2 linked regions of the Homo sapiens genome follow. The protein of the gene in region 1 purifies or fractionates together with the protein of each later gene. This does not show direct contact. Each region holds a gene or a part of one and is shown in the gene's direction. Other genes may lie near its edges.

What was found.
Region 2: the proteins of GNPDA2 (region 1) and MYH11 purify together in Homo sapiens (affinity purification with mass spectrometry; one large-scale study listed by BioGRID and IntAct). This does not show direct contact.

What each region holds. Positions count from the first base shown.
Region 1 is NC_000004.12:44,702,522-44,706,139, reverse strand, and holds part of GNPDA2 (glucosamine-6-phosphate deaminase 2), read left to right. Parts: intron 1-2,997; coding exon 2,998-3,059; 3' UTR 3,060-3,618. UniProt on the Homo sapiens protein: Catalyzes the reversible conversion of alpha-D-glucosamine 6-phosphate (GlcN-6P) into beta-D-fructose 6-phosphate (Fru-6P) and ammonium ion, a regulatory reaction step in de novo uridine diphosphate-N-acetyl-alpha-D-glucosamine (UDP-GlcNAc) biosynthesis via hexosamine pathway.
Region 2 is NC_000016.10:15,846,996-15,850,613, reverse strand, and holds part of MYH11 (myosin-11), read left to right. Parts: intron 1-3,618. UniProt on the Homo sapiens protein: Muscle contraction.

The sequences.
Region 1 (3,618 bases):
AAATAATAGATTCCTTGACTACAAGGAATCCTCACTATCCACAAATTTTAATTCCAGTTTTAAGGAGATTCATTTAACATGGCCATTTTCTAGTCCTCATTAAGTCCCAGATAAATCCCTGTACTAATCTAATTTTGTCACAATTAGGTTTTTATCAGATTTTTATATCTTGGTGAATATTTAATAAGATATTTAATAACAGCCAGTATCTCTATGACCAGGCACTATTCTAAATGCATTTTACTTATTGATTTACTTATCACAAAAATGTTATGAAATGGGTATTCATAGTCCCATTTTTAAATTAATAGGCTTAACAGACAGAGACGTTAAGCTACTTACCCAAAGTCATACAGCACATATTTGGGCAGAGCTGGGTAATAGAAATCAAAATCAGGCTGATCTCTGGAGTATGCAGGCTTTTGTCTATTCTATTATACTGCCTCCCAGAATAAACTCTAGGTATGATACCATCTACATCAAAACCATATTTCCATCTGCTTTTTTCCCATATGATAATCACTGCTTCCAAAAAAGGTATATCGACATATGTTAGATAATTTAAAATAGAAGGGTGGTAGATGTTTATATGTATTTAGTTCTTTTAGTTCATCTAATTGTAAGCTCTTCTGAAAAATTTTGAAACAGACCATTCGTGAGAGGATAGCTGCACTGCATCAAGAGGACACAGTATTTTCCACTTTGGAGCTGTCTGTATTTCTGAAGAGGTTTCAGGGTATCAGCCTGTTAGGATACCTCCTTCAATATGAAGACAGAATTTAGACATTCTGGGCTACATATGGGCCTCATTTTACAGCATTTTAGTAAAGGGTAGAGAAATTGAATATTCTTAAATAAACACATTTCAAATGTAGTTTGTATACTTTTCATACCTCCATTGAGTTACTAGTATATCAAAATACTGGAGGATGTAAATTCCTATAATTGTCATCCATAACTCTTCAAATTCCATTCACATCACTACCCTTTCTTCTGTCATCACTAAAAAGTGCTGACCAGAATCTTAAAGGGTTTTATTTAGTGCCTAGATAAGATCTAGGTTAACTAGATCCAAAACAATAAAAATTGTCAGTAAATGCAAGTTTATTTCAATATATACCTATATAACGGTATATACCTTTTGAAAGATACAAGTTAATCACAAGACAACAAGTTTAGTACGTGGGGATTTGTTTTATTCATTCTCGCTTTTCATTTTTGCTTTTTAAATAGAACAGCTTTGATTTTTAGTATATGACATCATCATCATGAATTTTTTTCTCTTACTTTGTATTTAGGCTCCACCTCAGTAGTTTGACAAAGGTAGAATGAGTTCATTTTGAGTCAAAACCATAAAAGTTACTTTGTATAGACATTGGTTAGAATCTGTGACATTTAACCTTTCTTCTGGTAACGTTTCAGGAAGTCTGGTGCATTTTTATCAGAAGAATTATTTCTGTTTGACTTAAGTAGCAATTATTTATTTATATAAAATTCGTATGTAGAAAGTTGTCAGTTTTTACCTAAAGTCACAGTAAATATTTGACTTAATATCTAAAAAGCAATTAATAGAATTTTCAAAATAATTATTTCTAGTTTGGAAGCAGTCCTATTTGATGTATAAAAGATATATCCAATGTAAAGAAAAAAATTTTATAAAGGAGTTGAATTTTTAATATTTACTGATATTTTAATTTGCATGTATTTTAAAGCTCTGTGTATTCTTTCCGTAATCAAAGTTGTTAGCAAATGACAGATGAATACTATTTAAGTAGAAAAACGATCCTCTACAAAGTGATACTCTGGAAAATGTTGCATCTTCTAAATCATACAGCTGATATTACCCTTATCTTTGTTGTCCCCTCTCCTACTGGACATGAAGTTTCAGGTGACCTTCAAGTAGGCTGTTGAGCAGTTGCAGGACTAGTGAATGGAATGCTTCCCCCTTCCCTCCTTTAGAGTCCCATTCTTATGGTTAGAATTTCTCCTACTACACAAACACTTCCCAGTACTCTTTGCTTGTCCCTTAAAAGTGGGTCTTTCTCAAAGCTGGGATTTTAGAGTCCTTTTTGCAGCCTTTCTGACAAGGAACATCTGTTTACTAACAAGCAACCTATCTCTCCAATCCAGTAATCCCATTTCCTGCAAAACCGCATTAAGTGCCTTTCCCCACCCTCCCATGTTCTTAATACCTGGAAAACTTAACTCATTTCTTTACCCTCCAAAATATAAAATCTCTGGTTCATTAACTGGGTCAGTCTTTTTAGAACTTTTTTCTCCCCAAAGAAATATAGTACTGAGGCATTAAAACAGGAGTAACTGGAAGATCAGCTATTTCCCAAGCAGCTTCCATAGCTAAGAGCAGTCTGCAAGTATATGTACCAATTACAAAATGAAAGTTATAATCTACCGGATTTAAAATCGTAATTTCTATTCTGAATTAAATGATTTAATACAGGTTGTTTTCTGTCTTGTTTTAGTAACCCTCCCTCAGTGTAGAATTTGTAATCAACCTTTGTCATAAATACACATGCCAAACTATTGGAAAGTAATTTACCAGACGAATGGATAGGGTAATGTATTAAGAGTGAGACAGCAGTTCTGAGCCCCTGGCTGGAGTCTAGTAGAGGAACTGCCAGAGGATCAATATCAACATAGACTTTTAGATATAATTAAAACCTATTATCTAAGTCAGTATTCAAATTTGTCATGCTTAATCTCTTTGAAGACAAGAAATGCTCTTCTGGTTACTCCCAAAGTACCTGTACACATTCTAGATCTGCACTGTTACATAATTATAAATTGGTATTTGCTAGGTAGATAAAACTTAAGACATTCTGAAACATTTCTATTTGTACTTTTTCAATAAACTTGACTATATCAAGATGGGAACTAAACAGGCTTACTGTGTCTTATAAAAAATACTTTGTTGTCTAAAGTAAATGAGATAGTTCAAAATTAATAAAAACAACTAGAACTGTGCTTTTTTTCTTTAAGGTCTAATGCATGTGCACAATAAACTTGTGGATCCACTATTCAGTATGAAAGATGGAAACTGAAGGAGACTGGAGCAAAATTCAGCTTGAATGAACAGAGCACTTTTTACTAAGTAGTAGATGAATTTTCAGCTATGCAATATGACAAAACATGGGGAATTTTGAAGATTGTCATTTTTTCATTCGAGTCTCTATGTTAAACATTCCATATTTTGAATATTTATATCTTGTACTTGGGTTTAAGAGAAGTAGCTGGCTCTCAAGATTGACTGGCTATTTATTATAAAGTACTGAAGTCACATAGCCACCTATAAAACAGCATAGAAATGTCTGCCTGTTTAAAAAGTCATTTTAAAGGTAGAGTGTCCACATCAGGCACCATTTGTGATATGACTCCAGTGGCGTATATTTCATTTTTTAATGACAAGACACTCCAAACCTTTCAGATAACAAACTATCATTGCAGACCTTCACTTTTGGAATGCAATCTTTATATTTTCTGTGCATCACACACATGCTTTTCTGCACGTGGTTGCCTTAGTCATCTTCCTACAGCACCATCTAGACATCAAAAATTGTGCTATATATCATTGGTAAAGGAAATTTGAAGAGATGACAGTGC
Region 2 (3,618 bases), on another chromosome or scaffold:
TGCATGGTATTTAGAATATAAGCAATACTCTAACATCTGGTCTGGGTCACTCTGTATTACTTACCTGATCTCCAAAAACATTTGGGTTTTTGTCTCTGGTCCAAAATCTTTAGCCAATGGCTTGGCAGTAAAATCCTGAGGGAAGCTGTTGACCAGGTGAGGTGATGTGCAAATCCTATACTCTCTGGGCTCTGGGATATTTAATTTACTATTTATTTATTTATTTTCAAGACAGAGTTTTGCTCTTGTCGCCCAGGCTGGAGTGCAGTGATGGGATCTCAGCTCACTGCACCCTCCACCTCCTGGGTTCAAGCGATTCTCCTTCCTCAGCCTCCTGAGTAGCTGGTATTACAGGCGCCCACCACCACACCTGGCTATTTTTTGTATTTTTAGTAGAGACGGGGTTTCACCATGTTGGCCAGGCTGGTCTTGAACTACTGACCTCAGGTTATCCGCCTGCCTCGGCCTCCCGAAGTACTGGGATTACAGGCATCAGCCACCATGCCCGGCCTAATTTACTTTTTATTAATGCTGAAGCAGAGAGGGCAAGATCTTTTGCCCCTGAGTTCTTCTGGGAAAAATGAAACTGATGGTAAAACAAACTAAAGCAACCTGACATTCTCAGTTGGTCCAGTTTCAGCCCTTTGACTGGGAGTCACAGACGGGTCCCATAAAATGGTAGAGCTGGGCCAGCCTACCATTGATTTATTTTCCCTAAATGAAAAATACAAGGCCCAGAGAGGGCAAGTGACTTGTCCAGAGTCACCCAGCAGGTTTGGGGCAAAGCTGAGACTCGTTACTTGACATCCTAAGGTCTTCCAGAGGCTAATGATTAGCTTGTTTGTGCTCAAAAAATGAAGCAGCCTGGGCGCGGTGGCTCATGCTTGTAATCCTAGCACTTTGGGAGGCTGAGGCAGGCAGATCGCTTGAGCTCAGGAGTTTGAGACCAGCCTGGGCCACAAAGTGAGACCCCTGTCTCTACAAAAAAATGCAAGAATTAAAAAATTAGCTGGGTGTTCTGGTGCGTGCCTGTGATCCCAGCTACTTGGGAGGCTGAGGTGGGAGAATGGCTTGAGCCTGGGAGGCAGAGTTTGCAGAAAGCAGAGATCGCGCCACTTCACTCTAGCCTGGGCAACAGAGCCAGACCCTGTCTCAAAAAAAAAGAATGAAGCAGTTGTTGGTCAGGACAGGACTGTAAACAAGGCTGACACACTCAGATGTGTCAAACATCGCTAATGCCAAAGGTGACAGAGTCATTTGTTTTCATCCAAACATTCGAGAAAGTTGGACGAGGTGACTCACGCCTGTCATCCTAGAGCTTTGGGAAGCCAAGGCAGGAGGATCATTTGAGATCAGGAGTTTGAGACCAGCCTAGGCAAAATAGCAAGACCCCCATCTCTACAAAAAATAAGCCGGGCATAGTGGCCCACACCTGAGGTGGGAGGATCCCTTGAGCCCATGAGTTTGAGCCTGCAGTAAGCTATGATTGCACCACTGCACTCCACCCTGGGCATATAGTGAGACCCTTCCCCCAACCAAAAACATTGAGAGCAGCTCTTGATGAGTGAACTGTACTTCGTGGTCAGCAGTTCTGGGTAGTAATTTCAGAGATGTCCTTTCAGCCCTTGGAGCTGATGCAGGACCTTAAACATGAGCGATGGTGGAGGAGGGAGGGTTGGGAAGGTGCATCAAGGTAGATGAAGAGTGTCCCTGGGGTTGGGCCAACTGGCGGTCCGTCTCTGGTCCAGTGTGTTCACCTTGCCCCCGTCTGATCTTCTGCAGTTGGTATTCCGAGTTGAGTTTGACTAAGTGAGAGCTGCTCTCAGCTTTAACTGCCTTTCCCAAGACAGCCCTTGTTTTTATTCTAAAGCTGTGGTTCTCAACTGGAAGCAGTTTTGCCACCCCAGGGGACATCTAGCAGTGTCTGGAGACATTTTTGATTGTCATGAGTGGAGGAAGGGGTGCTACTGGCATCAGGTGGGCAGAGACCAGGGATGCTGCGGAACATCCCACAATGCACGGAAGAGCTCCCCTCACGACACAGAATGACGCAGCCCAAGAGTCACAGTGCAGAGTTTGTGGCCAGCTGCGGTGGCTCACGCCTGTAATCCCAGCACTTTGGGGGGCCAAGGTGGGAGGATTGCTTGAGGCCTGGAGTTCAAGACCAGCCTGGCCAATATGGTGAAACCTCATCTCTACTAAAAATACAAAAATTAGCCAGGCATGGTAGCGCATGCCTGTAGTCCCAGCTACTTGGGAGGCTGAGGCACGAGAATCACTTGAACCCAGAAACGTGGAGGTTGCAGTGAGCTGAGATTGCGTCACTGCACTCCAGCCTGGGTAACAGAGCGAGACTCTGTGTCAAAAAAAAAAAAAAAAAAAAAAGACTTAGCAACTATTATTACTAGTATTAGTATTATTAATTTGTCAGGCTCACTGAATTTTCTCAAAAATTTGGCAAATTTTTAGGAAAACATTCTCAAAACATTTGGCAAATCTGTGGCTAAATGTTGTTTTGGGGACCCAAGGCTCGTAGGAGCAAAACAGCTTTCAGGTTTCCGGATCTGCCAGAGACTCAAGTGTCCTGTTGTGTGTTTTGTGTCTCAATGAGGGAAAGGGGAATATGTAGCACCTTCCAGATGGATTTGACCTTGACTGCGCCACTGTTTGAAGAGCTTCTCAACCTCCGCAGCTCCACCCCAGCCCAGATATTTCAGGGAATTAGGGTTCCAAGGGGCATGCTATGGAAAACACCATTCTAGCATGAGTCGAAGCTTCTCATCCCCCATCTTGCTGTCTTTTGACCAAAGCAGATTTTGCACGTCGTAACTGTCAGAGACATCAAAGCCAGAGGGAATCCAGCCTGCTCCAAGCTCTCCTTTTTTGTACAGAGACTGAATCTTTGCACTTGATCTTGTTTGTGTTTTTAAGTCTGAGGTTAGACAGGGTCCCAGGCAATGGAGGCGTGCGTGTCCTTTTATTTTTCTGTTGTAGCTTTTGCTATTTTTTCTGACTTTTAAGGCAACTCATCCACATGGCAATTAGGAAGAGCCCACTTAGGGCTGGGCACAGCGGCTCATGCCTGTAATCCCAGCACTTTGGGAGACCGAGGCAGGCAGATCACTTGAGGTCAGGAGTTCAAGACCTCAGCCTGGACAACATGGTGAAACCCCGTCTCTACAAAGAATACAGGAAAATAGCTGGGCATGGTGGCAGGTGCCTGTGGTCCCAACTATTTGGGAGGCTGGGGTGGGAGGATCACTTGAGCCTGGGAGGCGGAGGTTGCCGTGAGCTGAGGTCATGCCACTGCACTCCAGCCTGGGCGACAGAGCAAGACCCTGTCTCAGAAAAAAAAAAAAAAAAAAAAGAAGTCCACTTTACTTGTCATAGTGCTTAGAACAAATGAAACACTCTCCTAGCCCTCTTGGGATGTAATTGGCTACCATCTGCACAAACTCTTCATTATTGCACAAGAATATCAATATACTTAATGCTACTGAACTGTGTTTAAGTGGCCGAGGTGGTGAATGTTAGCTGTATTTTACCACAATTAAAGATAAGAGGGAAGGAAAATGAAGTGTACTTTACAACCAAAAAAGTACGCTTGATGTGCAAAAA